5 linked regions of the Homo sapiens genome follow. The protein of the gene in region 3 purifies or fractionates together with the protein of the main gene of each other region. This does not show direct contact. Each region holds a gene or a part of one and is shown on either strand. Other genes may lie near its edges.

Region 1 (6,059 bases), on a different chromosome or scaffold from region 3:
TCTCTTTGCAGAGTCCCTGCAGTGCAAGGTGGACTGTGAGGCCAATTTGACCCCCAATGTGGGTGGCTACTTCGTGGACAAGTTCGTGGCCACCATGTACCACTACCTGCAGTTTGCCTACTATAAGTGTGAGCCCCCTGGGTGGGCTGGCTTGGGCAGGGGACGAGGTGATAAGGGAGAGGACTGTATGGGAGCCTCCCAGAGTTGTGGGGAGCTTTCCTTCAGTATTGAGGACCCTGGGTGATAGGAGGAAAGTCTAGGGGTGGTGGGAATATGGGGAAGGCACCCTGGGAGTCTGGGGCAGGTGAGAGGCTTCTGAGTGAGAACAGACAGCAGCCTCAGGGAGAAGAAGAGGGTCTTTTGGGCAAATGACTAGACAACCAACAACTGCAGAGCACTTGACAGTTTATTTTTATTTTTGAAACGGAGTTTCACTCTTGCCCAGGCTAGAGTGCAGGGGCACGATCTCGGCTCACTGCAACCGCTGCCTCCCGGATTCAAGTGATTCTCTTAGCCTCCTGAGTAGCTGGGATTATAGGTGCCTGCCACCACACCCAGCTAGTTTTTGTATTTTTAGTAGAGACGGGGTTTCACCATGTTGGCCAGGCTGGTCTTGAACTCCTGACCTCAGGTGATCCACTGCCTCAGCCTCCCAAAGTGCTGGGATTATAGGCATGAGCCACCATGACCGGCCAACACTTGAGAGTTTATAAGTCACTTTATCTTATGTGGTCCTTTCACCAACACCATGCAGCTGGCATTACTGGACCGATTTTTCAGATGGGGAAACTGAGGCTTATAGGGCAAGGGGCTGTTGGTCTTATGACTAATAAAAAGTGGCACCAGGACTTGTGGCTCTCCTCACTGGAGAGATCCTGGCATCCACTGGGGCTGGAATGGACAGCCTCCAGTGTTCCTGCAGCTCGGAGATGCCAAGATTCAGACAGAGCCAGGAGTCAGAGCAGAGGGGCTGAGAACCCAGGGGCCAGGAGACCCTTCCTGGGTACACATAGCAGAGAGGCTAAGGGCCTCTAATTCACTAGAGCCATCATTCTCCAGCTGTGTGAGCTTGAGCAATTTATCTAACCTCTCTGTGACTCAGATTTCTTGACTGTAAAATGGGGATGACAGTAATAGGTAGGCATGGCTGGGCACAGTGGTTCACACTTGTAATCCCAGCACTTTGGGAGGCCCAGGCAGGCAGATGGCTTGAGCCCAGGAGTTCGAGACCAACCTGGGCAACATGACAAGACCCCGTGTCTACAAAAAATACAAAAAGTTAGCCAGGCATGGTGGCGCGTGCCTGTAGTCCCAGCTACTGGGGAGACTGAGGTGGGAGGATTGCTTGAGCCCAGGAGGCAGAGGCTGTAGTGAGCCGAGATCACACCACTGCACTCCAACCTGGGTGACAGAACAAGACCCTGTCTCAAAACAAACAAAAACATACAAAAAATTAGATGGGTGTGGTGGTGCCTGCTTGTAATCCCAGCTACTCAGGAGGCTGAGGTGAGAGGATCACCTAAGCCTGGGAGATCAAGCTTGAGGTGACCATAATTGCACCACTGCACTCTAGCCAGGGTGATAGAGTGAGACCCTGTTTCAAAAACAATAAAAAGACAATAACAGTGAGGCTTAGATGAGTTAGTCAGGGCCTGGCATAGGGTAAGTGCCCACTACATGCTAGCTGGCATTATGCTTGGGTGGGATAAGGAGCCCATTAGGTATTCTGGGAGGTGGCTGGGTAGCAGGGGTGCTGGACTGAACTGGAAGATGGAGTTGACTCTGAAGGGGAAGTGCCAGAGCAATTCCTCACCCCTGTCCTGCTGCAGTGAATGATGTGCGCCAGGCTGCCCGCAGCGCCGCCAGCTACATGCTCTTCGACCCCAAGGACAGCGTCATGCAGCAGAACCTGGTGTATTACCGGTTCCACCGGGCTCGCTGGGGCCTGGAAGAGGAGGACTTCCAGCCCCGGGAGGTGGGCACTGCTTTCTGGGGCACTTGCTGGATATGCACTTTGTAAAAAATGAACTCCTGGCGGCCGGGCGCGGTGGCTCATGCCTGTAATCCCAGCACTTTGGGAGGCTGAGGCGGGTGGATCACGAGGTCAGGAGATCAGGACCATCCTGGCTAACACGGTGAAACCCCGTCTCTACTGAAAAGAAAAAAAAATTAGCCAGGCATGGTGGTGGACGCCTGTAGTACCAACTACTCGGGAAGCTGAGGCAGGAGAATGGCGTGAACCTGGGAGGCAGAGCTTGCAGTGAGCGGAGATCGCGCCACTGCACTCCAGTCTGGGTGACAGAGCGAGACTCCGTCTCAAAAGAAAAATAAATAAATAAATAATAAAAAATAAACTCCTGGCTTCCATGGAAGGCAGGATGGGAAATGGAAAGAAAGAATATGAGTTGAGGTTAGAGTCCTGGCTTCAGAGCCCAGCCCCACTGCTGTGTGGTCCTGGGAAGACCATGGCCCTTTCCTAATCTATTGCCTCACCTGCAAAATGGCAGTGATACTGCCACCTCACCAGCAGTGTCCAGACGAGGGAGGTATGAAGGTACACATCCACTCCTACCTGCTCCCCTCCCTACCTTCATTACCCTCACTGCTGACCTTTGTCCCTCTTTCCCAGGAACACCCTAGGTAACCAATGGAGGAAATCTGTTGGAGTTGAGGGCCAGGCTGGCAAATATGGGGCACATGGTGCCACTCCTGCCTTCCTTGTCAGTGGCAGACATTGCTAATCGATTGAGGGACTCTTTGTCACCAAACTCTCAGAATCCTTAACCCAGTGTTCCAAGCAGCCACGATGATCTGATGAGCTTGTGAGCTGATACCTATTCTCTGATCCTTGAGCTAGAAGAGGGCCAGTGGGCCCAGATCCTAGGAGCCCTGGCTTCTTGCCATCTGGCAACAGGGTATGGCTCACCCCCCACCCCGTCCTTCCCTCCTTCCAGGAGGCCATGCTCTACCACAACCAGACCGCCGAGCTGCGGGAGCTGCTGGAGTTCACCCACATGTACCTGCAGTCAGATGATGAGGTGAGTGCCTCCTGCTTTCCAGGATTGGGCTGTGATGGGGACACCTTGGACCTTTTCCTGGGGCCACCAGTGTGCCAGAATTCAGCCCCAGCCCCTGGTGGTCAGCTGTCGTGAAGAAGAGAGGTTTGCCTGTTCCTTGTCTAGACTGTCCGTTCCTTCCCCAGCCTTAGTATTCTCATGTCCTCCTTTTGTACATGTCTCAATCCTGTTCCTCCCAGGCCCAGCTCACATGGTGCCTCCTCCAGGAAGCCCTTGCTGCATGCCCTGGCTCTTTGTTCTGGGCTAGCAGTGCCCACTCTGACCTGTGTGCCTCCCTGGCCACCTGTGGCCTGGACCTGGGTGATTGCAGCCCTCGTCCATCTCAGCCCTGGGCCCCTTCTCCAGCCAGTATCCAGGAGAACCGCACTGCAGGACACAGGGCCACATTATTCCCTGTTCTCCCACATCCTGCACAGAGCCTGGGCTCAGAAACTGAGTTTGAATGAACCAGTGAATGAATGAATGCAGGACCTCAGGACAGAAGGACCGTATTGTATTACATTGATTTATTTTATTTATTTATTTATTTTTTTTTTTTGAGATGGAGTCTCGCTCTGCCGCCCAGGCTGGAGTGCAGTGGTGTCATCTCAGCTCACTGAAACCTCTGCCTCCCGGGTTCACACGATGCTCCTGCCTCAGCCTCCGGAGTAGCTGGGATTACAGGCGTGCACCACCACGCCTGGCTAATTTTTGTATTTTTAGTAGAGACAGTGTTTCACCGTGTTGGTCAGGCTGGTCTCGACCTCGTGACCTCATGATCTATCTGCCTCGGTCTCCCAAAGTGCTGGGATTACAGGCGTGAGCAGCCGCACCCGGCCCTATTAACATTGATTTCAAGTGAGGGTTTGACAGCCTTAATTTCTCTGAGGTGTTGCTGCTCAGTGCTCATTTATGTATCCTCTCCTTTGTTCATGCCCCCACGCCCCCACCCATCCAACCCCAGAGGAGGAGGGCAGAATCTACACCGTCAGCACCCAGGATGAGGAACTAGCCAGACCTGGCTCCATTACTTACCAGTTGGGTGGCCTCCAAACAAGTGTCAGGCAACCTCTCAAGCTTCTGTTTCTTCATCCATTGAATGGGGAGAATCATGCCCATCTCACATTGTTGTGGTGAGAATAACACAAGATCTGGCCGGGTATGGTAGCTCATGCCTGTAATCCCAGCAATTTGGGAGGCCGAGGCAGAGGGATCACCTGAGATCAGGAGTTCAAGACGAGCCTGGCCAACATAGTGAAACCCTGTCTCTATTAAAAATACAAAAATTACTCAGGTGTGGTGGTGGGCACCTGTAATCCCAGCTACTGGGGAGGCTGAGGCAGGAGAATGGCTTGAACCAGAGGCAGAGGTTGCAGTGAGCCGAGATCGCGCCACTGTACTCCAGCCTGGGTGACAGATTGAGACTCTGTCTCGAAAAAAGAGAAAGAATTAAGTGAGATCAAGTATGTTTTTTTGTTTGTTTGTTTTTGAGACAGAGTCTCGCTCTGTCGCCCATGCTGGAGTGCAGTGGCGTGATCTCAGCTCACTGCAAGCTCCGCCTCCCAGGTTCTCACGCCATTCTCCTACCTCAGCCTCCCAAGTAGCTGGGACCACAGGCGCCTGCCACCACGCCCGGCTAATTTTTTTTGTATATTTAGTAGAGATGGGGTTTCACTATGTTACCCCGTATGGTCTCGATCTCCTGACCTTGTGATCCACCCACCTCGGCCTCCCAGAGTGCTGGGATTACAGGTGTGAGCCACCACACCCGGCCTCAAGTATGCATTTTTCTTTTTTTTTTCTTGGAGACAGAATCTCACTCTGTCACCCAGGCTGGAGTGCAGTGGTGCGATCTCTGCTCACTGCAACCTCCACCTCTTGGGTTGAAGAGATCCTCCTGTCTCAGCCTCCGAGTAGCTGGGATTACAGTCATGCGCCACCATGTCCAGCCAATTTTATTTTGTATTTGTAGTAGAGACAGGGTTTCACCACGTTGGCCAGGCTGGTCTCAAACTCCTGACCTCAAGTGGTCCGCTTGCCTCGGCCTCCCAAAGTGCTAGGTTTACAGGCGTGAGCCACCGCTCCTGGCTGAGATCAAGTATGTAAAGCACTTGATAAAGAGCCAGTACCTGGTAGGTGCACAGTGAATGACAGCCGAGTCTCACTCTGTCATCCAGGCTGGAGTGCAGTGGTGCAGTCTCAGCTCATTGCAACTTCCGCCTCCCAGGTTCAAGCGATTCTCCTGCCTCAGCCTCCTGAGTAGCTGGGATTACAGGCGTGTGCCACCATACCCAGCTAATTTTTGTATTTTTAGTAGAGACATGGGGTTTCACCATGTTGACCAGGCTGGTCTTGAACTCCTGACCTCAAATGATCCACCGACCTCAGCCTCCCAAAGTGCTGGGATTACAGGTGTGAGCCACCACGCCTGGCGTATGGCAGCCATTTTGACGGCTGTCTCTTATTTCCTGTGGTTTGCCAGACACCAGACTAGGGGCTGGAGTAAGTTAGTGAAAGTCATGGTCCTGGCGGGGCACGGTGGCTCACACCTGTAATCCCAGCACTTTGGGAGGCCAAGGCGGGCGGATCACGAGGTCAGAAGATTGAGACCATCCTGGCTAACACGGTGAAACCCGGTCTCTACTAAAAATGCAAAAAATTAGCCAGGAGTGGCGGCATGCGCCTATATTCCCAGCTGCTGGGGAGGCTGAGGCAGGAGAATGGCGTGAACCCAGGAGGCAGAGCTTGCAGTGAGCCGAGATCATGCCACTGCACTCCAGCCTGGGCAACAGAGCAGACTCCGTCTCAAAAAAAAAAAAAAAAAAGGAAGTCATGGTCCCTTTCACGTGCCGCTCACAGTCTAGTGGGGGAAGCACAAACTGCTGCTGGAGAGGGCAGCACACGGCACCAGGGGAGGTCTCCAGCCCAGCCAGAGTCACCAGCAAGGGCTCAGCCTGGAACTGATGCCTGGCTTTGGAGGGATTAGTGCGGGCTACGCAGGCA
Region 2 (6,059 bases), on a different chromosome or scaffold from region 3:
TGAAAATCTAGTACATCTGAGTTCTTTCTGCACTAATTTCAACTATGAGTCTACATTAAAGCAATGGCAAGGCCTAATGGTATATATGGTAAGGTCAGAAATTCATTTTGTCTTTATATAGGGTTATGCTCATAAAAATTTGTTTCTATTCCTCTAGAGGATGTTTTTAAGAATTAAAAAAACCAAACAAACCCATATTGGCTGCTGATCAATGAGATTGTGGGTTGGCAACCATCCTAAGAAAGAACGGAAACCCAAGGGAACAGATGTCTACATAGGACTGTATTATGCAGGCCTAGTGAAGAACAAAGAAATAAACTGTGGGCATGCTGATAAGGATCCCACATTATTTTTGGGATAGGAGAGATTTTTTAGGTGTAAAATCTTAAAGAATACAAAAAATGTCGGATCTTAAGTTTAAATCACTTTTTAAAAAAACAAAACTTTGTGACATTAAATGTCAAGATCAAATTTTTAAAGACATAGAATACAGAGAATTGCAAAATAAAAAAAAGCAGATATATGCTTGATGAGGGAAAAATGCATTAATGATCTCTCATCTAAAACACTGTTTTCCTTATTATCATAATGACTAAATTGCCTGTCCATAAAACCACTGGAATATGTATGTTACTGACATTATGCCAACAAAGTCAAAATGTACTTTATTGCAAAAATATAAAAAGTTTTAAAACTGCATATGATATTTTATACCATTTCACCAATAGGCCAAGGCCAGCACATAACTTATCAAGCTAGAAAACTTTAAAACAAAAATGATTAAAATTTTACTGTGTTTAATGAGTTATAAAAAAAAGTGATGCCATGCTGTGTAGCATGTTTAATTGCCAAGTGCCCTCTTACATGGGGATAGTCACTAATATGATTATCAGTCTGAATAAGTAAAACACATATAGCCTATGATAACATCCTTTAATTATCTTCTTAAACACAGATACTTTCTATATATTACAATCATTTTAATAAACCTTTCAGTCATAATTTTGTGGAGTACAAAGTCATTTTATCAGTATGTTGATTTTTTTATGAACTACTCTTTAGAAAGTGATGTTAAAGCCTATTGACTATTAAATCACTACTGTTTATTGATACGTTGTAAATGTAAAAAAAGGAAAAAACCTGAAATCACAGAAAATGCTTGGCATCTACACAAACACATTCTCAGTGGACTAACCACTACTGTGTAATTTTGTCACTACAGGTCTTGCTCCATACTTTTGCTTCATGCAGTGGGTTCAACAATATCCATGTTCGTTCCAAACAGGGCAACTAACTGTTCTTCATAGGTAGCGATGTTCCTTTTCATAATTTCCATGCAAGGTCCCAGAAGCCTTTCAAATGCTTGCACATCCATTGCTGAGAAAAGAGAAGATTTTTTTTTAAATAACATTCTTTGCAAATCTGCAGAATTTCTAAGTCATTTACAATACCGACTCCATATATATCAATAGTGCAATGATATTTTAGGTAAATACTATAAAATACAAGAAAAAGCATAATGATAAAAATGTTCCACTTGAAAAAGGAAGCAGCCAGGGCCACGCTCTTGGACCACACTCTGCAGTCCCTCGGCAATATGATGAGCAATGCTAAGTTGGTGGGAGGTTCCTGGTCCAAGCTGAGAAAAGAATGAGGGACTATCATGGAAAGACCTTAGAATTTTAAAAAATAAATGTGCTGTCTCCACCTTAGCAATGTGAACTCCTCAAGGGTGGCACAAGAGTGTTTTCTATCCTGTGTTCCCTTCTCAGGGTTTAAAATGCCATGTTGTGAAGGCCAAGTGTTAACCTTTTGTAAGTTTTGCTGCCATACTATGTCTATGCAATCCAAAAATGGCAGCTGACATAATGCTTTTGTTTACTTCTATAAGTACATGCTAGAAATCACTTTGCTTGCCTGTCTCCTGGATTTTAAAACTGGATTTATAATATATAAATAGAAAATATGATCATACTCTATACATAAAAGTACAAATTAAAATAGATCTTCTTTGCCTTTTACACTAAAGATAAAAAGATAAAAAAGGCAATGTTTACAAGAATAGGGTGAATGGGCATTATGGCACTGCTAGTAGTGTACAAATACAAGTAATCTGGCAATATGTGTCAAAAGTTAATTTTTTAAAAACCCACTCCTGAAAACCATTTCTAAGGAAAACTCCTATAATACAGAAAAGTCTTCTATGCACAAAAAATTGCTCCCCACAAAAAAGTTGGAGCCAAAACCTTCGAAGTATTTACCACTAAGGAATGATTAATTTATCGTGTATATATTTACCTAAAAGAATTTTAAAATTTGGTGTAATAAAATAAGAACATTCCTAAGCGATAATGAACTTTAAAAGTTGTTTGGAAAACTGTTTAACAACTGGAAGCCCACACAAATAAAAAGGACAAGAAGGAATTATAATAGCAGAAATCACTGAGTGGCGGTGTTATGTTTTTTCTACATTTTCTGTATTTCTCAGGTTTTCTTTGATGTGAGTATAATAATCTATTATTGAAAAAAAATTAACAGACTTTCACTCACTCACCTTTACTCTTTCTAATAGACTTTCACTCACTCACCTTTACTGTAATAGACTTTCACTCACTCACCTTTACTATTTCTAATAGACTTTCACTCACTCACCTTTACTCTTTCTAATAGCCCTACTTAGGGAAATTACCTGCCAGTTTCTAATCGTCTTCTCTTCCATCCAAATTTAACACTTGATTAATATTATACTTATTTAAACCCTTTTAAAGAATGACTTCTCTAAGAAGTTAATTCTAAGGATCCTTGCAAATCTTAAAAACATTAAGTTTATGCTATTGAATTATGGATGAAAAGCACAGAGAGGGTAATAACTGTGAGATCAATTTTCTTAAAATACCCTCCATATTGCCACCTTCTAAACTGTATTTTCTTATCAAAGTAAGTGATTTCTCAGATATATAATCTCAGATATATACAGATGCCTGCACCTGAAGATGACATTTCTGCCAAGCTACTCTGGTAAAATAGTAATAACAACTGAACAGCAAAGAACATTTGACTGTGCTTTGACAAACCTGAACCTTTGTGTCCCAATACTGTAATGAGTAAGGATTCTCACAACATCTCAGCATTCCCCGCAGATCTTAATAACGGACTTTATAAAAATAGTACTTTAGCCTTCTCTTTTGAGGAACATAGCACATGTTGCTTATTTGAGAGATTCCATATAAAACGTGGTACTTGGAACTCTTATTTTAATGACTAATATGGGATGTTATTTCATATATACACAAGAAGAGCAAAATGTATCTGGATGTAAAAATTTCGAAGAAAAAATGGCTTCCACAAATTGATTTTATAAGGCAATGAGTCCTAATCTTGTTACCTTTTGTGGGGACCACAAAACCTGTGAACCCAATAAAATGATTCACTCAACATGAATACATAAAATGCAGACATAAGTTCAACCAGCAGAAGCACGCCCACTGTTGCAATCCCTACCTAAACATTTGACAGTCCCAATGGCGTGGGCAGAAGCTGCTCGAGGTTTGTTAGTTACCAGGGCAAGCTCTCCAAAGTACTGTCCCCGCGAGCATCGAGCGATTTCTACTGCACCATTCTCTTCCACTTCTGATTTACCCTGACAAGGCAATTAAAAAGATGAGCTTTTCCTCAGCTTATGAAAAATAAAATTAACCTCAGTCTAAACATCAAAAAGTAGATCTGTTGTGTTCCTTGCTAACAGTATGTGGGTTCTGAGGACTTAGAATGCTTACCTTTCTTTTCATAGTAATTTTCACTTCTCCAGATTCTACAATGAAAAAAGAATCAGCCGAATCTCCCTATTGGAATCAATAACAAAAACAGACGGTGAAAATGCAAATTAATTGACAACAATCTTGTTACCTTTCATATCCCTAAAATTGATCCAACCCCAAAGTACACATATTCACCTGAAAAGTGAAATCCTAAGGGAACAAGCTGTCTCGGTTTCTAAATCAAGAGGTTTTTTTTTTTTTTGAGACGGAGTCTCACTCTGTTGCCCAGACTGGAATGCAGTGGCGCGATCTCGGCTCACTACAAGCTCCACCTCCCGGGTTCACACCATTCTCCTGCCTCAGCCTCCTGGGTGGCTGGGACTACAGGCGTCTGCCACCACGCCCGGCTAATTTATTTGTATTTTTAGTAGAGACGGGGTTTCAACGTGTTAGCCAGGATGGTCTTGATCTCCTGACCTCGAGATCTGCCTGCGTCGGCCTCCCAAAGTGCTGGGATTACAGGCGTGAGCCACCGAGCCCGGCCCTAAATGAAGAGGTTTTGATGGACAATTATGTAGTAATGATTTCATTTGTAAAATTATTTGAAATAATACTTTCTTTTTCCCCCCCAAGATGGAGTCTCGCTCTGTCACCCAGGCTGGAGTGCAGTGGTGCAATCTCAGCTCACTGCAGCCTCCACCTCCTGGATTCAGGCGACTCTCCCACCTCACCCTCCCAAGTAGCTGGGATTACAGGCATGTGCTACCACACCCAGCTAATTTTTTTTTCCTTTTTTTAAAATTTTACTTTAAATCAGGGATACATGTGGAGAACATGCAGGTTTGTTACACAGGTATACATGTGCCATGGAGGTTTGCTATACCTATCAACCTGTCTGGTTTTAAGCCCCGCATGCATTAGGTATCTGTCCTAATACTCTCCCTACCTTCACTCCCCACCCCCTGACAGGCCCCGGTGTGTGATGTTCCCCTCCCTGTGTCCATGTGTTCTTATTGTTCAACTCCCACTTATGAGTGAGAACATTCGGTGTTTAGTTTTCTACTCCTGTGTTAGTCTGCTGAGAATGATGGCTTCCAGCTTCATCCATGTCCTGCAAAGGACATTATCTCATTCTTTTTTATGGCTGCATAGTACTCCATGGTATATATGTACCACGTTTTCTTTATCCAGTCTATCACTGATGGGCATTTGGGTTGGTTCCATGTCTTTGTTATTGTAAATAGTGCTGCAATAAACATATGTGTGCATGTGTCTTTATAGCAGAATGATTTATATTCCTTTGGGTATATACCCAGTAATGGGTTTTCTGGGTCAAATGGTATTTCTGCCATTAAAAAGTGGGCAAAGGATATGAACGGACACTTCTCAAAAGAATCAAAAGAAGATATTTATGCAGCCAAAAAAAAAATGAAAAAAAGATCATTACTGATCATTAGAGAAATGCAAATCAAAACCATAATGAGAAACCATCTCACGCCAGTCAGAATGGCAATTATTAAAAAGTCAAGCAACGATAGATGCTGGTGAGGTTGTGGAGAAATAGGAATGCTTTTGCACTGTTGGTGGGAATGTAGATTGGTTCAACCATTTTGGAGGACAGTGTAGCAATTCCTCAGGGATCTAGAACCCGTATTTATTTATTTTTTTGTATTTTTATTAGAGATGGGGTTTCACCATGTTGGCCAGGCTGGTCTCGAACTCCTGACCTTGAAGTGATCTACCTGCCTCAGCCTCCCAAAGTGCTGGGATTACAGGCGTGAGCCACTGTGCCTGGCCTTGAAATAATATATTCTCTACCACTGTATTTCTGCTAAAAAACCAAGAAAATGTGGCAACACTGGGGTAAGAATTTCACCCAAATTTCAGCCTAGATAACAGCATACATAGTTGGAAATGGCAACACTGCTGTGTATGCCAGCAGCGTCCCCTTAGTTGGCAGAAACATGTCTGCGGATCCTGTGCTCCTGAGGAAGTGCCGAGACATGCACCCTGCGTCATCCTAACATCGCAAGCATTGGTGTGGTGACCCAAGATAAGCCATCAACTTGCAAAGAGCAGAAAGCATCCAGATGGAGCCGGAAGCAGCAGATGTGGGCCTTGACATTTTCACTACAGTCAACTGAGGACCAAACTCTGACATGCTAGCCTACTGACATTCCATTTCAAGGCTTTGGAAGGACTTCTAAAAGAAAAGTGTTGCTCTACCCATATACCTGTTCTTTCTTGCTTTTGTTTCTTAATGAACTCTGCCTTGATCTCCAATGATGCAGTCTGAATTAA
Region 3 (6,682 bases):
ACAGGTAGCCCACAGCTACAGCCCAGGGACCAGGGCTCCTTCACAACTCAGGTGGAGCACAGGGGAGAAAGTGTTCCAGTCTCTGACTTCCATTCTTGGGCCAGCACATTTCAGGTTTAGAGGCAGTTCCATTTGATAGAAGCTTAGGAAGGAAGACTCACAGAAGTTGAACCAAATAATTGAAAATGATAGGAAGACTAGGGACACTGGAATGGGACATCCCCCCCCCCCGCCCCCGCCACCCCCACCACATGCATACACACAGCAGGCCATGGAAATGTTCAGCCTGAGAAGAAAGAGTCTTGGTGTCTTGTGTTTGTAGGGAGGCTGTGCTGGACTCCAGGCAGAAAAGGGGTGAGGGTAGCTCAGGGCTGAGGGTCAGGGCTGGGGTTCAAGAGTACTGACATCCTGGCAGAGGCCCTCCAAAGCCCTGGGGCTTGCTCATCTGCCTCTTGGGTCTCAATAGGACCTGCCCAGAAGAAGGGACCAGATCTGGGGCCCTGAGACTTGCGTTCCCGACCTTGAGCCACCAAGCTGCCAGGGACAAGGGATGAAAGTGCAGTAGGACTTCTCAGAGCAGCTTCCCCAAAGAAGAGGCTAAGCCTGCTGACCTATGCCCAACTCCCATGCCTGCCCAGTCTACAGCCCTCTCAAGGGACCACGGAACTGCTCTCCTCATTGTCATTGCCCTGAAACCTCCTTGATCTACCTGGAGAACACCAGAGGGAGGGTGGCATCCCTCCACTTTGGGAGAGGGGCACTCCTCAGAGAACACAGAGCAGCCTCCTGAGGAGCAAGGCCCAGAAGAGGAAAGGGATAGAACTGGGACAAATGGAAGGCAGAAGCCAGGAAAGACAGGCCAGGAATAGCAGCCAGCAGCTTGAACCTAAGCTTGTAAAGGAGTGAGGGCTGCTCTGCTGAGCACGGGGCACATCTGAGGTGTGTATGGATTGTGCAGAGGAGTCACTGCACCTGATCCGGACACTAGGTGGTTAAGGCGGGGTACTCATGTTGGAGACAGCCTGAGACAACGCTGGGGTGTCTTCTGCCTGCATAACCGCAGGGCCACAGCAGCAGCTGTTGGGCGTGAAAGCCAGGAGCCTTTTAACGTAGTAAAGGAGCTCTCTGTCCCTGACCCAGCTCTCAGGCCTGCCGTACCCTGAGCACCCCTCACCCGGAGGAGTGCCAGAGCCCCTACCAGCGGCTGCTTCTAAGCCACTGTGCAGCCAGGAAGCAGCGCCGCAGCAGGCCCGAGTGCTCCACTGTCCCCACAGAAGGCATCCATTGAGACCGCGGGACCAGCCTTGGCTTTCACATTTCGCTGCAGCCTTGTCCCGCGCCGCACTGTTTCCTCCGGCCACTGTGGGGTCACTAAGCGACCTGCAGAACTCGCTGAGGCCCAGGCTCCTGCAGCTCCCGCCGAAGACTCAAAGCCAGAGTGGACATAAACGCCGTGGGCAGGACCCCGGTGAGGCCTCGGTGCCCTTCTTGGGGGTTCTCAGCGTTGGCCCAGAAGCCTCAGCCCGGGTCTAAGAACTTGGGACTCTCCTCGACTTTGGCGATCGGCCGGGTCATCCGGCTCAGGGCCTCAGCGGCAGCGGGCAAAACTCTAGTAGGAGTCTCTTGCCGAGGGCGTGTTTCGACGTCAGAGCCAAACTCGGGACAGACTAGCCAAGCGCGGACGGCGCGAGAGTGGCTGGCAGCGCCAGCACGCAGCCTGGGTTCAGAGCAAGGCTGGGCGCTCTCAGCAAAGGGCGGCCTGGGGCTGCGCGGGCGGCGGACTGCAGGCGGGAGAAGAGCGAGGTGCGCCAGGCTCTGGGGCGCGCAACTGCCCAGCCTCGTGAAAGATCGCGCCGCAGATGGGGCGCAGCTGCGCGCTCACTCGTGTGGACTGGAAACGCTCCGAGCCGGTTATTTTAAAAACCGGGAAATAAGGCGGGTTCCCTCTTCGCCCGCCACTTCCCACCAAGTAGGCTGTGCGGCCCTGGGGGCTGACTGTCCTCAAGCAGCCAGGCTCCACCGCGCGCCGCGCTGCGCCGAGGTCCGCTCTGCCGCAGGGACGCTGGCAGCCCGTTGAACACCGGCAAGAGCGCCAGAGGCTAGCGGCCGCCAGGATCTCTACCAGGCTCTGCTCGCACCCGCCTGCCTCCCTTTCGTTTGGCCTGTCCTCCGTTCAACTGAAATCGTTAATTTTCTTACCCCCTTGTTCTCATTTTGATATATTCTACGCTTTAAACATGCTCCGTTTTCTTTTGTTTAGTCTGCTCCCTCCCTCTTTGTCCTTTCCCCCTTCTCTAGTTATCCGTTTCGTTCGATCTTGCTCCTGCTTTTTTTATTCGTTCGTTCCTCATTTATTCATTTTAGTTCATCCCAGCTCGCCGACTGCCATTTACCCTCTCGTTCTCGCCGCGCTCTCCGTTGTTTTGTTCAATTTCCCTTCCCCTTTTCTTGGTTGTCGCTCGCTTTCTTTGGTTTTCTTTCTCGGTATTTCGTTGTCAAGGCCACCCTTGCCGTCGGATCCCGGGGTGCTGGGTTTCTCCCGGCCGCTCGTTCCGCACCAGCGCTCTCTGCAGTTCGCGCGGCACCGGTGTGGTCCGGGGGCCCGAGCTGTCGGTGCCGGATGCGGCGCGCCTAGCAGGGACGCGGGCCTGGGGGGGTGGCTCCTGCCCGACGCGGAGCGCTGAGCCAGGCCGGGTACCTGTCTCTGGCGGTGCTCACCGCACTGCGCGGCCTCTGCCGTCTGGCTGGGATCAGAGGAGCCAGGCCAACTGCTTCTCATTAAGTCCCAACTGTGGTTTTTATCAGGAAAGCCTCTTTCAAAGGGCACAGACACGAAGCTCCGCGGACTCGTTCATTTCCTCCGTTGACCCACACACACCTCCCCGCCCTCCCCTACACATTCCCACCGCCCCGGCTGGGCGAAAGCCGGAGATGCCCGGCCACTCCGTGGAGGCCCGCGAGGCGCCAGCCGGGCGGCGGCAGGGGGTTGAGGCGGATCTTGGAGGATCCAGTTCTGGGCCTAGGCTGCGGGATATGGCAGCGCAGATAAGGTGGGTGCAGTGCGGAAGCCGAGACGCCTTACAGGTCATAGGGTGCGGCGGACGGCCGCAGAGCTGCCGATCAGCCTGCCAGGCCCCTGCCTTCAGGCGCATTCTCGGATGCCGGCGCGGTCCAGCCGGCCTTAGCACAGGGCACCGGCCCGTGAGCCCGCGGCGCCAGGGGGTTAGGCTGCCCAGGGCTGCTCCTGACTGCCCAGCGGTGATGATCCAGCGCGGGGAAGCCAAGACTGCCAGAAGGGCGGCTATCATAGTGCATAACGGCAGGGAGGCCAGCTTAGTATGAGAAATAAGAATACAGTTATTCCGTCTTGAGGACAGCCCTGGCATTGCACGACCAGTCGCGGCCAGACTGTGCCAGTCTGCCGCACAGGCAGCACCCTTCCTGTGAAGGCTAGGCCCGGGGAGGAGAGACGGGCCAAGACCAGGCCGCAGTCCCCAGCCGACCCCGATTTGACCACTCTAGGTTGAGGCCCAGCCTCAGGGCCCTCAAAGGGCGCCAGACACAAAAGCCGCGCTTCTTCGTCAGGTCTCAGTGTGGCTCCACAGCCCTCGGCCGGGTCTGGGCTTCAGGGTAGGTGGCAGTTCCAGTCCAACTTCGGCAGAGCATGCTCTCTCCTTCCCAGGTCCAACTGCTTTCGGGCCCCGACTGGACTCCGGGCCGTCGCCACTGCACCTTCCCTCGACCTCCCGCCTTCCATTCCCGCCGCCGAGGAACGGTGGTTCACCCTCCCGCCCCACACTGGCCTTTGCCTGGCCCGGGCCAGCGCCAACCCGGCTTCCGTGGAAGCCGTGGCGAAAGGCGAGAGGGGCAAAAAGTTGAGAAATAGGCGAGCGGGAGAGATAAGCAGGAAGGCCCGGGTGGGCCCGGGTAAGGAAGAAGAAGAGAGGGTCGGGCTGCGCGCTACGCCCCGCGCCGCGCGTTACCTTCCGCGGGGCCCTCGTAGAAGTGGCCGCCGTTGAGGGCCGGGCCGGGCCCGAGGTCCTGCAGGTACTTGGCGGGCGGCTTGGCCGGCTCTGGGAGGTAGGGCTCCAGGGGCCCGCAGGCCGGAAAGCGGGTCAGCCGCGGGCCGCGGGGCGGCGCGGGGTGCAGGTGAGGCGCAGCGGCGGGGGTTCCCTGCGGGCCCGGAGGCTCGTCCCCCGAGGCCACATAGGGGCCGGGTGCAGGCCCCACGCGGAAAGGCGCGCAGTGCTCGGGGTCCATGCCGGCTCAGGGCGCACAGGCCTCCGGGGCTCCGGGGCTCGCGCTGCCCGCGCCGCCTGTGAGCGCCCGCCAAGGGGGAGGGACCTGGGCGCGGGGGCGCGGAGCCCCCGGGAGCGGCGCGCGCCGCGGGGGGCGGGGGGCGGGGGGCAGGGGAGGGGGCCGCGCCTCTGACTTAATGCTGGAACCATCCACGTCACGTGTGGCCCCGTGCGGGTTAACCCCTCGGAGCCCGGGAACCCCCTCCCCCCATTCACCCAGAGCCCAGTCCCAGGCAGCTCAGGAGAGGATGAAGCAGCTTCCTCTCTAGGGCAGGATCCCTTTGTCTACCCATCCAGGTGAGTCTCTTGCTCAGAGCAGCACCCGTGGTCCTGATATCCAGCCTAGAGGCACTTGCCCCTAGAGGGGTGAGGCCGTGTGGGCATCCCCCCCAAACACTTTTGGGCCTGGACTCTGGACATCAGCCTGGGATGAGGGCCTGGGCGGGCAGACAGGCAGGCCTTAGGCTGCAGTTTTACTTAGGTCTCCGCTAGGAGCTGGACAAAATGTTGCCTCAGCAAAAAACACCTCCCTTAGAGATCTCTTGTTTCTCACAGTGAAAGGAGCTATTGGGAGTGTTGTGTGGAAGCAGATCTAAGCTGGGAATGGGGTGCTGGGGAGCTTGGACCTGGACACTATCATTAATTAGCTATGGTTCCTTGCGCCAATCATTAGTGTCCTCATCTGACTGTGGAGGTCGGGCCAAGCCAACCCTGGGTCTTTCTATGTATTTGAGGTGTGTTTCAGAAGTAGAGACAGGGCCAGAGCAGACAGGGAGACTCCCATGGGCAGCTCAGGACTGAACAGTGTCCTGCAGGGGCAGCCTTTGGAACAGGTGGAGGATGAGCAGAAGGGCTGGTGTTTCCTCTGGCAGCAGCTTGGAGTGAATGCGTTTCAGTGGGCAGATGACCCAAGTGTCTGGGGACCCACTGGAGAGACTGTCTGCAGCTCGGACCTCAGGGCTGTGCTCCCCCAGGCCTGACGATTCAGAAGGGATGAGGGTAGAACTGCATCTTCTAAGAGCTGAGTCTCCCCAACCAAAAGGAGACAGGATTAGAGCAGTAGCTTAGAATTTCAGAAAAGAGAAATAACCACCACCCTACCTAAGATCTGGGGAGAAATACCCAAGGACCCGAGGACCCTGCTCACTTCCCATGGATTGAGGAGCCCGTGGGGCTGCGTTAAACTGTTTTTATTATCAATGCCCCCGGAGACTAGCAAGAGAGGTGGGGAGTCAAACATCATTTGTATTTCATTTGAATTCTCAATTTTTAAAGGAATCCAAGAGGCCTGGTGTGAACACCTCCCTCTTCCGCTGGGGGCTTAGAAGGGGTTTCTTGGCTCCTCAGCCAGAGTTGGGCTGTAAATCAAGACCAAACAGGAACCAGAAGCCTTGCATCTCACAAGGAGTCATTAAGCCGTTATTAAACATACCATAACTTCTCTGAAGACTTATTGGTTTCAACACCACCTTGGAGGCATTATGGCCATTAGGGCCCCTAATCACGGAATGCAGACTGGCCAGAGAGATGGGAGCACCTGGGGCTGGTATTTCTAGTCAAGAGGGAGGCTCGGCTTGAAATTAAGCTTCCCTTCTGGCCTCACCAGAGGGATCCTTTCTCCAGGATCTAGTGGATCCAGCTCTGGGCAACCAATTTGAACCGATCACCTTTGCCCATTAATAAGGTTTTTCAATAGTTGTTGATTGGATATTGTTTTCTTTTCTCTCTTCCCCATACCTGCGAAATTGGATATTGTTGACTTTCTAGGAGGACATCAATTTAGGATACCTATTCTATTCAACAGTTATCAAGAAGTTTACTATGGAGGATGAAAATATCACCCAGGAAAATGTCACCAACAATTTAAACAAGGCAGCCTGGATCAAAGGCTGAGTCTTCTGCCTCCCATGACAACCTTGCTGAGCCTCAGTTTCCTCATCAGAAAGGTGGGCCACACATGGAAGTAGGGTATTTGCAAAGCATTCGTGTTTTGATGCACTGTGTTAATTTAATAGATGCTGATGATGATGGTGATTACCATCTCCAGTGGGTTCCATCACTGAATAGGTGAAAGGCTCCTGACTTCAGAGTGAATGGGCCTAAGGCTGGAGCTGAGCAGAGAGACACAGGGACCTGCATCCACTTTCAAGCCCAGAAATTTCTCTTGACATTCTCCCACTCTCTGAACAGAGCCAATTTCCATACTGGGATGGTGTTACCAATTAAACTGAGGAGAGAGAAAACCCTAGATTACATGAGAGTTTTGTGGGTAAGTGGAGTTGACCTTCCTGGGAGAGTTTTCTTCCAGAACCACACAAATCAGCACACGGGGAGGAGACTTTTCCACTTGTCTTTTAAGCCGTTTGTGTAAACTTTTATCTATC
Region 4 (6,059 bases), on a different chromosome or scaffold from region 3:
GGTTGTGTGGGTTAAATGAGACACACGAATATATAACACTCAGCACACTGCCCGGCACATGGTAGGACTCAGGGCAAGGCATGTCTAGGGGTCTCTGTGGGCTGTCTCCCTCACATTCATGCCTCACTTCCTCCTTCCCAGCAGAACCTTGATTCTGTTCAGTACAGTAGCTATTATTATTGTTATTACTATTACTGATTTTTAAAAATGCTTGTTGATAGAACTTAGTGAGCCTGTGCTGGGTGACGTGAGAGAAAGTACAGCCTTCTCTCGATCTCTTCTGCCTGTGAAGCCAGTGGAGATAGAGATTGAAACGCCAGAGCAGGCGAAGACAAGAGAAAGAAGGTAAGCTTAGGCCCTTGCTTCTAGGCTCCTGTCACATGCAGTAGGCAACAGCTGCTGCTTAGGAGGACTTTGGAGAAACTTGTAGGGGACCAGGACTGAGTATCAAAGTGGTCGAGAACCTTGGGTCAGGAACCTGATTTACCTTTAGAGACTTGAATGAGACACCTTCGTGTCCTGGCTGGGGCTGGTGAGGGATGAGGAGAGGGAACTCCTGTGTGCCAAGGATTGAGCAGGTCATCCGTTATCTTACCTAATCCTTAGAACAGTGTTGTGAATGAGGAGCTAAGTAACGTTCAGACGCTAAGTAACGTTTCAAGAGTCACTCAGCCAGTAATGGAAGAGCTGAGACCTAATCCTTCTCATTGACTTGGCATTCACATTTTCCTCACCATGTCATGCTGCAGGACTTGAGGCAGTGCCCGCCGTGGTAGGGAGCCCCTATCCTTCCCAGCATCCCGGAGTACCTCTGCAGCCTCTGATGGCTTGGGAATTCCAATGTGCGATGGGCACATTACTAGGCACAGAAGAGGGAGATAATACAAATCATTCAAGAAGTGTCAAGTTGTCTTGAAGATTAATGGGATACAGACTGAAAAAGAGATTTTACACTAGAACAGTGTCACATAAATGATGGTGTGTTAATTTAACATTAATAAAGGTAATGGTTGCTAAGGAGAGAGTCAGTAGTCGGAAGAGTTGGACAGCCAGAGAAGACTTCCTGGAAGAAGTGAGCTTTGAGGCATGTAGGTGAGGTGTGATCTGCTGCTGGTTGAGAGGAGGGTTGTCTGGGTACAGAATGTCCCAGGCCGAGGTTTGCTGGTGAGAAGGAGCCAAAGAGCCTGCAGGAAATAGCTGGCTTGCAGACGGACTTGAGTAGCACAGCCTTGTGTAGGGAAACAGGGAGAGTGATTCACTGTCATCCGAGGAGAAGGAATTGCCTGGGGGAGTGGAGTCTGGTTTCAGTTCCCCCCTTCATTCCCAGATTTTTCACTATTTGTTGCAGTGAAAAGATAAAACTGGAGTTTGAGACATATCTTCGGAGGGCGATGAAACGTTTCAATAAAGGGGTCCATGAGGACACACACAAGGTAAGGGCAAGGAATGATGGGGAAGGACTTTTCCTTGTCGGTGCAAAGAGCTTGTGCTCACCGAGGCTTTATTTCTGGCTTTGCTGCTCTGTGGCCATGGCAAGTTTCTTACTCTCTCTGAGCCTTTGCATCCTCATCTGGGAGGTGGGGGTAGTAATAGTGTCTGTCTTGGAGGGTGGTTGTGTATTATAGGTAAGGTAACTTGCAGCACAATGCCTGGCATGCAGCAGAGGCTAAATAAAGAGCACTTGCCTTCCATCTCTCCTTTCAGCCATTTAATGTCATTAATTCTAATCCCAGCTGCAGGCACTGGCTTTTGACTTTAGCTGACAGTTATTGAACACTTGCACACACCTAGCAAGGTGCTTGGCATGGTGGGGATAGAGACTTGGATAAAGCTTATTTCCTACAATTGAGGAGTATCTGATCTCTAGATGGAACAAGGACTTCCAAACAGAGAAACTCAAGGCTATGCCTGGAACAGTGAAAGAGATCAGCGTGGCTCTGTGGAGCTGGGGAAGGCTTTATGTAGGGGAAAGGATTAGAGCCAGGTCTAGGAGAAAAAGTTGAAGACTCTAGCCAAGTTGTGGAGGGGACGGCGAGGTGCCCAGCTCACCTGCGTGTGTGGAGTATGTAGGTGTTGGGGGGTGGGGGTGAAGGGAGGGTGGGCTTTGGTTTCCCTTTGATGGATGGTGGGCTGCCTGAGAGGATAGTGATGGGATGGGTGAGTTGCTTTGTGTGCAGCTACTGCAGAAATCTAGAGGTGCAAGGATGGTGACGAGGTTAGAGAGGGGTCGCCTCCCTCACCCAGGCCTGGGGCACGAAACGAGACAGCTGTGTGCCTTTCACCTCTTGTTGGGTGCTGGAGGTGAAAGAAAGGGAAGATGACTCTCAGGTTTGAGGCCTGAGTGAGGAGAGAGAGGCAGCACTATTGATTAAAATAGGGAGGCTGTTAGTCGGGGGGGAGGAAGCCAATGTTGAAGGGAAAATGACACAAAGCAGTATGTGAAAAGAGGTGAAGAGGTCATATAATCATTTCAGTAGGTGGATGAAGGGTGGGTTTTGGGGTCAGAGGAAGGGCAAAGATGTGGAGCCTGTGACAGAGAAGGTTGGGCTCAAACACCCAGAGAGGTGGCGAGAGCAGCCCAGTGAGCCCAGTGGGGTGCATCCCGCCGGCTTCCACAGGCTTCCAGCAGTCTCTCCAGCTCCACTCCACTTGCCTTTTCTTCTGATCTCGTGGAGCAAACCCCAGACATGGCAGCATTTCATCCAGAAATCTTTCAGTATGTATCTCTGAAAGACAAGACCAAAACAAAAACAGTTTGTATTTTGAAAACAAAGCAATTTGTATTTTGAAGCTTTGAGGTTTGATGATTCCTTTGAAGGAATGAGTATACAGAGAGAAAAAGAGAGGGTCAAAGACAAGCTTGGGAAGTGGCCAATGCTAGTGTTTTTACTTTCTTATATGTAGAAATGGCAACACATATTTCTTGTCCACAGCATGTCTTGACTTTGGCAGCAAAAATTCCTCCTGGTGTCCGGCCTTCCTTCCATGCTGCCCCTTCCTCCTTTCCTCTTCACAGGTTCACCTTCTCTGCCTGCTAGCAAATGGCTTCTATCGAAATAACATCTGCAGCCAGCCAGATCTGCATGCTATTGGCCTGTCCATCATCCCAGCCCGCTTTACCAGAGTGCTGCCTCGAGATGTGGACACCTACTACCTCTCAAACCTGGTGAAGTGGTAAGGCCCTCCGCTTGTCCTGCAGAGCTGGGGAGTGTAGGATTTGTGTTTCTCTCAGAGGCTGGGTTCAGGTCACTTCCACAGACCTTCCCTGAGGCGGTAACTATGTATCAGGTGGTGGGCATGGCATTGAAGATAGAGAAATGCCAGGTATGATCTTGCCCTGGTAGAGCTGCCAGACTGGTGGGGAGACAAATACATACCAGGTAATTACAGGATGGCATGAGGAGTGCCCTGGAAGGGGTGTTCTGGGGACTGCAGGCTCACATAGCAGGGGCGCTTTTCTCAGCTGGGAGGTCTGGGAAGGCTCCCCAAGGAGGTAAAGTCTGAGCTGGGTCTGCAGTGATGATAGGAGTTAGCTAGACGGGCTGGGGAAAGTAGGACAGAGGCAGGCGGGTCTCACGATTCACTCCCTCTTTTTATTTTCTTGGCTGGAAATGAAAATTCCCCTTTGCCCTGACCTCTGACACAAGGAATGCCTGCTTTCTCCCCAGGTTCATTGGAACATTTACAGTTAATGCAGAACTTTCAGCCAGTGAACAAGATAACCTGCAGACTACATTGGAAAGGAGATTTGCTATTTACTCTGCTCGAGATGATGAGGAATTGGTCCATGTAAGTGATCCTCCCGGATCACTGTTTTTTATCAGTACTGTTAACTAATGATAATGGCAGCCATGTGCCAGATGCCATTCCAGGTGTGTTACCGACACTACCTTATTCAGTCCTCATAATGACGTTGATAGCTGCTGAAGCCCAGAATAGCTACATGATGCCTCTAAGGTCTTTTCCTTGGTGAGCCTGAGAATCGAGATTGGGATCAGAGTCTGAGTGGAGGGCCTGTATGCTTTCCTCCCTATCGCCTCTAGTTGTGGTGTACCAAAAAGCCCGTAGTTTTTGGTCAGATGTGCTAGAAATATTTTCATTAATTTTTCCAATTTTGTCTTCAGAAGTCCCAAGGAAATGTTTTTTCAAATTGGATGCTGAAGTCCTTGAGAATGTGTTTTTGTATCTCACATTTGGGTGTTGACACTGGCAGGCAGCAGTGCAGTGAGGAGGGTTCTGTCCATAAAAAGGAATCGTGATGGCAGAGTGCTCCAGGGACAGGCAGGCTTTATCAAATGCCTACAGGCACCTGTAGGTAAGGCTCTGTCTGAATAAAACAAAAACAGAGATGGAAATGTGGTTTTATCCCTAGAAGATTCCTATTAATCCATACAGTTCAATCTGGGAGTCCCAGATTCTCTGGAGAAAAAGATGGTTGACATCTTTAGTTCTCTTCTTCCGTGTTGGCTTTAACAAGTCTAAGATATTTGGCAAGGCTGATAATTATGTTATAATGTGCTGCCAATTTTTTTGTTTGTTTGTTTTTGTTTTTTGAGACAGAGTCTCTCTCTGCCGCCTAGGCTGGAGTGCAGTGGTGCAATCTCAGCTCACTGCAACCTCCACCTCCTGGGTTCAAGTGATTCTCATGCCTCAGCCTCGCGAGTAGCTGGGATTACAGGTGCCCACCACCATGCCTGGCTGATTTTTGTATTTTTAGTAGAGATGGGGTTTCACCCTTCACCCTGTTGGCCAGGCTGGTAACTCATTAATATTTTAGTATTGTCCTCCCAGACTTTGTTCCTGTGTATGTGTGTACGTATGTATTTGTTTTGTTTATTTGTTTAAGCAAAATAGGATCACACAGCTTTTAAAGAGGGGGTACAATTCAGTGACCATTTAGTACATTTACAATGTTGTGCAACTACCACCTCTATTTCCAAAATGTTTTTGTCACCCCCAAGGGAAACCCTGTATATACGCATTAAACTCCTCATTGTTACCCCCCTGTCCCTGCTCGTGGCAACCACCAATCTGTCTTGTGTCTCTGTGGATTTACCTATTTAGGATATTTAGTATAAAAGAAATTATACACTATGTGGCCTTTTCTGCCTGTCTTTTGCTTAGTATAATGTTTTCAAGATTCATCTGCATTTTAGCATGTATCAGTATTTCATTAATATTTATAGCTGAATAATATTCCATTACATGTTTATACATTTTCTCTATCCATTTATCCATTGGCAGACATTTAGTTAGTTTCCACCTTGTGGCTGTTGTGAAGAGTGTTGTTAATAATGTCTATACATATATTTATTTACATACCCTGTTTTCTGTTCTTTTGGGTATATACCTAGGATTGAAATTGCTAGGTCATATGTATATTCTATATGTAATTTTTGGAGAAACCACCAAACTGTTTTCTGCAGTTACTGTACCATTTTACATTGCCACCAGCAATGAACGAGGATTCCAAATCTTTACCAACACTTGGTTATTTTCTGATGTTTTGATTATAGTCATTATGATGGGTGTCAAGTGATACCTCATTGTGGTTTTGATAGCATTTCTCCAATGACATGATGATGAGTGTCTTTTCATGGGCTTCTTGGTCATTTGTGTATCTTTTTTGAGGACATGTCTGTTCAAGTATTTGCCTATTTTTTAATTATGTTGCCTTTTTGTTGATGATTTGTAAGAGCTCCTTGTATATTCTGGATATTAGTTACCTATCAGATACATGCTTTCCACATGGTTTCTCCCATTTTGTAGGTTGCCTTTTTACTTTCTTGATGAAGTCCTTTGATACCCAAAAGTTTTGAATTTTGACAAAGTCCAAGTTACCTATTTTTCTTTTGTTCTTTTTGCTTTTGGTGTCGTATCTAAGATTCCATTGTCAAATCCAAGGTCATAAAGATCGACCCCTGTGTTTTCTTGTAAGAGATTTATAGTTACTGCTCTTACATACGTTGTGAGTTAATATTTGCATATATCAGGTAGGTGTTCAATATCATTCTTATGCATGTGGATATCCATTTGTCCCAGCATTATTTGTTGAAGAG
Region 5 (6,059 bases), on a different chromosome or scaffold from region 3:
GTACCCCACAAATTTGTACAGATTTAACAAAAAGAAAAAATAGGCTAAAGTCAAAATGCTATATTATGAAGTCTTCATATACTTACCTCACCACACTGAACTTGAGATTATAGTTGCCACCACTCTGAATGATAGGAGGGTAACACATTTCCACAGTAGAAGGGTCTGCCCCAGCAAGGTATTTTTTCTCTTCAATGGCCTTTTCCACAGACTCAGCCAGTTTGCTGTGTCGAACTTTCTGTAAGAGCATCCAGAAATAAAGTAACACTTACTAGAGGGTAGCAAAGCGGGGTGTGTGGACACTATGATTTGAAGACAAAATGTATCCTTGTATAAGTCTTAGGAAATGATTTATGCGCCAGGTAATATATTGGTATGCAGGCAAAACACATTTGGAGAACAATATGTAGGACTTACAGCTATTCCTATGATTCTCAAGTAAAATAATGGGTTACCTCAAGAAAACATAACGCAGGCTTACCATTATTTTGAAAGGGAGATGATGTAATTACCACCAACTTAAGTGTCAGTCTTAATTTCAAAGGAAGCTGAAGAACACACCAACAGATTTGCATGGTAGACTTATTACTGCTTCATTAAAACAGTAAAAAGACCCTCTCATCTCCATTTACCTCATCTGCATCAACTATTTCCATGACTCTTTCCTTGAAGAATTTGTTGAAGACTTCAGAAGTGATGCTGGCTGCTTTCTTCATTAGGTTGAGCTCCCCATCCTCCTTTACAGCGATGGTATATGCCACAACTGCACTGATATCTATCTGCAGTCAAAGTGACAAGAGTTTCTAACATGCAAGTACAGAATTACAAAATAAATGCATCTCTCCAATTTGAATATTACCAGTGATATTTCTGTTATTTAGCAAACTATCACTGGTTTGCAGAATATTCAAACATTCTCTTCTTGAACTGAATAAACATTTGAAATAGCTCTTTGCCAGGTCATTGTGTGTACTACAAGAGGTGTTAAGCTAATGTACCACTTAAAATGTAAACTGCCCTCTAGACGTTTTTTGTAAAGGCAGATAGAAGAAAGGCAGGGAAAAAAAATAAAACTGGCACACTGCTCAGCCAAAGGGGATAAAATGTAAACAAACATACAGTTTTCCCAAAACAAACGTCCTGCACTATCTGTTATGGAAGCCCATCACATTTCTGTCTTCTCAACTCTTGATTTGCTATTTCCAGTAGTATTCTTACTTTGTCAAAGCCTTCTTTGTTGAGGCAGTCATTCCAGCTCTTCATGAACTCTCCAGGGAATTTGTCTTTGCTGAACACTCCAATCTTCTTGCCATTCTTGCTTTCTTTAATGGCTTCAATCATTTTGTCAAAGCTACTCTTATTACTTTCATTCTGTCAGTGTCATAGGGAAGAAAAGACACATATGTTTTACCAGTTCATTAGACACGTTTTACCAGTAACAGGTAGAATAATATTCTAAACTACGGAAAAAATTAATTCTCCTCCCATCCCCACCTACTTTTTACTTTTAAAGAGACAGGGTCTTGTTCTACTACCCCCAGGGTAGAGCACAGTGGTGTGATCACAGCTTACTGCAACCTCGAACTCCCAAGTTCAAGCAATCCTCCTGCCTCGGCCTCCCAAGTAGCTGGGACTACAGGTTCATACCACCATGCCTGGATAAATTTTTTTTTTTTTTTGAGACAGACTTGCTCTGTTGCCAGGCTGGAGTGCAGCGGCGCAATCTACACTCACTGCAACCTCAGCCTCCCGGGTTCAAGTGATTCTCATGCCTCAGCCTCCCGAGCAGCTGGGATTACAGGTGTGTGACAACATGCCCGGCTAATTTTTTATATTTTTAGTAGAGATGGGGTTTTGTTATCTTGCCCAGGATGGTCTTGAACTCCAGACCTCAAGTGATCCACTGCACCCAGCCTTCCTGAATAATTTTTGTATTTTTTGTAGAGATGGGGTTTTGTCATGTTGCCCAGGCTCATCTGGAACTCCTGCGCTCAAGTGCTCGCCTCGGCCTCTCAAAGTATTGGGATTACAGCCATGAGCCACCATGCCTGGCCTACCTGTAAGATGCCTTCCCATCTTTAAGGAAGATTGTAATATATCAAAAGTGAGCAAAACATTTCTTTAGATATTTTTATATACTCAGGTGAAAGTGCTGCCGTAAGTTGACCAGACTATTCCTTTTTTTAAGAGAAGGGGTCTCACGTTGCCCAGGCTGGTCTCAAACACCTGGGCTCAAGCAATCCTCCCATCTCAGCCTCCTGAGCAGCTGGGACTACGGGTGTGTGCCACCACGTCTGATACAACTATCCTTTTTCTTCAGAAACAGTTAAGAAACTCAAACACATAAGTGAACAATATTCTGAGAAAACATCCCATGTTAGGTGGGCAGTATGACAAAAAAAATTCACATTTGATAAAAACTGGAAATGATGTATATCTAAGTTTCCTTAAGGATATTTAAGGTTATTTGCTCTAATCAAGGCATACAGATGAAAACAAACTAACAGTGTCCTCAAGAATGGAGACATAAAATCAGTGTTCACCAGAATTTCATAGCTCATTTGTTTTACAGCAGAACTGATAGGATTATTGAATTCTTTTCCTCCTAACAATGAAGACGTGACAGAACTTTGTAATTACAACCACAGCCACCTATAATTTCCCCTGCGCATTCTTTCAAACTCCTATAAGGCATTTCTGTTCATCCCTTTTGAAGATTCTTCCACATTTATGACACATTCTTTATTAATCCTGACCTTTTCTCGTATTAGCAGTGTGATGGCAGGGGCTCCATTAGCATTCTCATTGCCCTTAGTGTTGGCAATCTGTTTCAAGAACTCCACTTTTTTCTTGCTGGCCATAAAGATGATTTTGTCATCACAAAAGACCATGATAGTATCAGTTAGTTCATAACCAAAGAGCCATGTCTATGGAAAAAGACAACAGTGACAACGGTATTTACAGATACAAAAATTAATGGACTCATATAGATATACAGAAATACTTATAGACAAAAATAACATGTCTGAAATTAACTCCAAGGTAATCAGGCTGGGGAGTCTGGAGTGGATACAAATTAAGCAAGATCGGCCAAGAGTCGACAATTTATTAGAACAGGACAATGGGGTTCAATGTATTATTTTCTCTACGTTTATATGCTTGAACTTTCTATAATTAAAACCATCAAATCAGTTAAACGATTTGTGTTTATAGGAAGTATATCAATGTTTAGTGATACAGAAATGCATAAAACAAGGGACAGAGTGATACAGAACCCTGCGTTATTACCTCCTCAATTACCAGTTCCCTACCAATTATTCATTTCTCCTTCTCAAAGAACTGATATTTTACCTTCCTTTCAGGTAAGTATGGTCATTAGGATCAAATTTTGGCCAATAGGTAAAAAATGGTAGTGTGTGGAGCTTCAAGCAAGTCTTCTTAAAAAGAAAAGGTGGCCTCCTGTTTTCTTCTCTGTCTCTTTTTGCTTGGAATGTAGATGAAACACCTGGAGTTCTAGAAGCCATTCTGTACCACGTGCAAGAGGGCTATGTTCTTTGGGTGGCAGAACAGAGAACTGGAAAAAGCCTGGGTCCCTGAAGACTATACATAAGGAAAAGAATATTTTGTTTAACTCACTGTTACTTAGGTTTTTGTGTTATAGCAGCTAAATCCATACTGATATTAATACTTCTTTTTCCTTATGTCTTAAATCACTGCTAAATCCAATTGAACTTTATGTGATGGTGAAAATACCATTTATCTGCTCTGTCCAATATGGGGTAGCCACTGCTGAGTACCAGAAACACAGCTGATGGGACTGAGAAATTGAAATTTTTTAAAGTAAGAGACAGGGTCTCACTGTGTTGCCCAGGCTGGAGTGCAATGGTGCAATCTTGGCTTACTGCAACCTCTACCTCCTGGGGTCATGCCATCCTCCCATCTCAGCCTCCTGAGTAGCTGGGACTACAGGTGCACACCCCCACATCTGCTTAATTTTTTTGTATTTCTTGTAAAGACAGGGTTTTGCCATGTTGTCCAGGCTGGTCTTGAACTCCTGGGCTCAAGCAATCCACCTGCCTCGGCCTCCCAAAGTGCTGGGATTACAGGCATGAGCCACCGCAGCCAGCCAGGAATTTAAGTTTTAATGTGGCTACCATACTGAACAGTGCAGTAGATAATCCAACAACTCTAAGAGCTAAAAATTGCTGTAAATCTCTCACCTGTAAGGCAGTTGATTTGGCATAAACAATTTCTTCATCAACACCCACTGATACAACAATGGCATCAACGTTGGCATACTCATCTTCTCCTTTCTGAAAAGAGTGGGTAATCATCACTTAATTTTTCACACTAGCAAAACAGGAATACAGCCTTCAATATTTATCTAGGACAGGCATAATTTTCTCCTGATAGAAATTTCAAGTTTAAGGTACATGCCTGTTTGGCAGTCTTACGGCTATTCTATTTTTTGTTTTTACAGTACTTGCTAATTGTTGATAAATATCAAGAGAAATTTTTCCTTAGCCCCCAGATCTATGTTTCATAGTTCAGGAACACAGATCAGTGACAAACGTCCTGTGTAATTCAAAGAAATATTTTATTTTTTAAAATTTTATTACTTATTTTTGAGATGGAGTTTGACTCTTGTTGCCCAGGCTGGAATGCAATGGTGCAATCTCGGCTCACTGCAACCTCCGCCTCCTGGGTTCAAGCAATTCTCCTGCCTCAGCCTCCCCAGTAGCTAGGATTACAGGTGCCCACCACCACACCTGGCTAATTTTTTTATTTTCAGTAGAGACAGGGTTTCACTATGTGGGTCAGGCTGGTCTCGAACTCCTAACTTCAGGTGATCCACCTGCTTCGGTCTCCCAAAGTGCTGGAATTACAGGCATAAGCCACCATGCCTGGGCCAAACTAATTTTTTATATTCCAAAATCATCTTGCACTCTCAAAGATAAGCCACCTTCATCTTAGAATCTTTCAAGGAGTCATAATTTATGCAGAAATCTACATATGCCTTCTTTTTTGGTTCAGCCACAGAAATTTTAATAGAGAGATGTAACCCCAGGGCAAAATGAACACTTCAACAACATGAAATCACAGATGCCTGGCCAGAAGGCCACATATCTGAGGTTTCATGAAAGCACTGGAAGCCATGGTAGTTTTTGTCCTTGTAGGTTTTGTCAACCTCAATACCAATGTCCTTTCTGGCTGATGGAGAGACGGGAGTTCTTTATTTTTTAAAAAAGTTTTATTGAGACAGAATTCACATAAAATTCAAAAGCATACAATGTAATGATTTTTAGCAGAATTATGCAACCATCACAATTTTGGAACATTTTAATCTCTATGTCCTTGAGTACAATCATTCCCCAACTCCCCTATCTCCATCTCAGCCCTAGACAAACCACTAACCTGTCTCTATGGATTTGTCTATTCTGGACAATTCATATACATGGAATCAAATAAAATGTGGCCTTTGTGTCTGGCTTCTTTCACTTGTTTTCAAGGCTCATCTGTGTTGTGACACGTATCAACACTTCATTCCCTTTTACTGCTGAATATTTCATTGTGTAGATATACCACATTTTATCTATCCATTCATCAGCTGCAGGACACTTGGGTTTTCACTTTCTGGCTATTGTAAAAAATGTTGCCATGAACATTTGAATATGTTTTGTATGGACATTTCTCTTGGGTATACATATACCTAGGAGATGAACTGCTGGGTCATATGGTAACTTTTCGAGGAATCATCAGACTGTTTGTCACCATGACTGCACTAGTCACTATTTCACATTCCTAAGAATGTATCAAGGTTCCAATTTTTCCACGTTAACCAACAGTTTTTATGTCGTTTTGATGACAGCCATATAATGAGTGTAAATTAGTATCCTGCTTTTTTTTTTCTTTTGAGACAGAGTCTCGCTCTATCACCCAGGCTGGAGTGCAGTGGTGCAAACTTGGCTCACTGCAACCTCCGCCTCCTAGGTTCAAGCGATTCTTGTGCCTCAGCCTCCCAAGTAGCGGGACTTCAGGTATGCACCACCACGCCCAGC

The links.
Region 1: the proteins of ALX3 (region 3) and P3H4 purify together in Homo sapiens (affinity purification with mass spectrometry; 2 studies listed by BioGRID and IntAct, with this or other methods). This does not show direct contact.
Region 2: the proteins of ALX3 (region 3) and PRKAR2B purify together in Homo sapiens (affinity purification with mass spectrometry; 2 studies listed by BioGRID and IntAct, with this or other methods). This does not show direct contact.
Region 4: the proteins of ALX3 (region 3) and XPC purify together in Homo sapiens (affinity purification with mass spectrometry; one large-scale study listed by BioGRID and IntAct). This does not show direct contact.
Region 5: the proteins of ALX3 (region 3) and SUPT16H purify together in Homo sapiens (affinity purification with mass spectrometry; 2 studies listed by BioGRID and IntAct, with this or other methods). This does not show direct contact.

The regions. Positions count from the first base shown.
Region 1 is NC_000017.11:41,803,775-41,809,833, reverse strand, and holds part of P3H4 (endoplasmic reticulum protein SC65 precursor), read left to right. Parts: coding exon 1-128; intron 129-1,829; coding exon 1,830-1,975; intron 1,976-2,954; coding exon 2,955-3,038; intron 3,039-6,059. UniProt on the Homo sapiens protein: Part of a complex composed of PLOD1, P3H3 and P3H4 that catalyzes hydroxylation of lysine residues in collagen alpha chains and is required for normal assembly and cross-linking of collagen fibrils.
Region 2 is NC_000007.14:107,154,767-107,160,825, reverse strand, and holds part of PRKAR2B (cAMP-dependent protein kinase type II-beta regulatory subunit), read right to left. Parts: intron 3,843-6,059; coding exon 3,777-3,842; intron 3,641-3,776; coding exon 3,502-3,640; intron 1,378-3,501; coding exon 1,244-1,377; 3' UTR 1-1,243. UniProt on the Homo sapiens protein: Regulatory subunit of the cAMP-dependent protein kinases involved in cAMP signaling in cells. Type II regulatory chains mediate membrane association by binding to anchoring proteins, including the MAP2 kinase.
Region 3 is NC_000001.11:110,066,353-110,073,034, forward strand, and holds the start of ALX3 (homeobox protein aristaless-like 3), read right to left. Parts: upstream 4,321-6,682; 5' UTR 4,261-4,320; coding exon 3,984-4,260; intron 1-3,983. UniProt on the Homo sapiens protein: Transcriptional regulator with a possible role in patterning of mesoderm during development.
Region 4 is NC_000003.12:14,162,543-14,168,601, reverse strand, and holds part of XPC (DNA repair protein complementing XP-C cells), read left to right. Parts: intron 1-221; coding exon 222-345; intron 346-1,348; coding exon 1,349-1,433; intron 1,434-3,016; coding exon 3,017-3,174; intron 3,175-3,668; coding exon 3,669-3,789; intron 3,790-6,059. UniProt on the Homo sapiens protein: Involved in global genome nucleotide excision repair (GG-NER) by acting as damage sensing and DNA-binding factor component of the XPC complex. Has only a low DNA repair activity by itself which is stimulated by RAD23B and RAD23A.
Region 5 is NC_000014.9:21,369,118-21,375,176, forward strand, and holds part of SUPT16H (FACT complex subunit SPT16), read right to left. Parts: intron 4,314-6,059; coding exon 4,221-4,313; intron 3,580-4,220; exon of another isoform or gene 3,352-3,579; intron 2,928-3,351; coding exon 2,757-2,927; intron 1,372-2,756; coding exon 1,219-1,371; intron 780-1,218; coding exon 633-779; intron 239-632; coding exon 87-238; intron 1-86. UniProt on the Homo sapiens protein: Component of the FACT complex, a general chromatin factor that acts to reorganize nucleosomes. The FACT complex is involved in multiple processes that require DNA as a template such as mRNA elongation, DNA replication and DNA repair.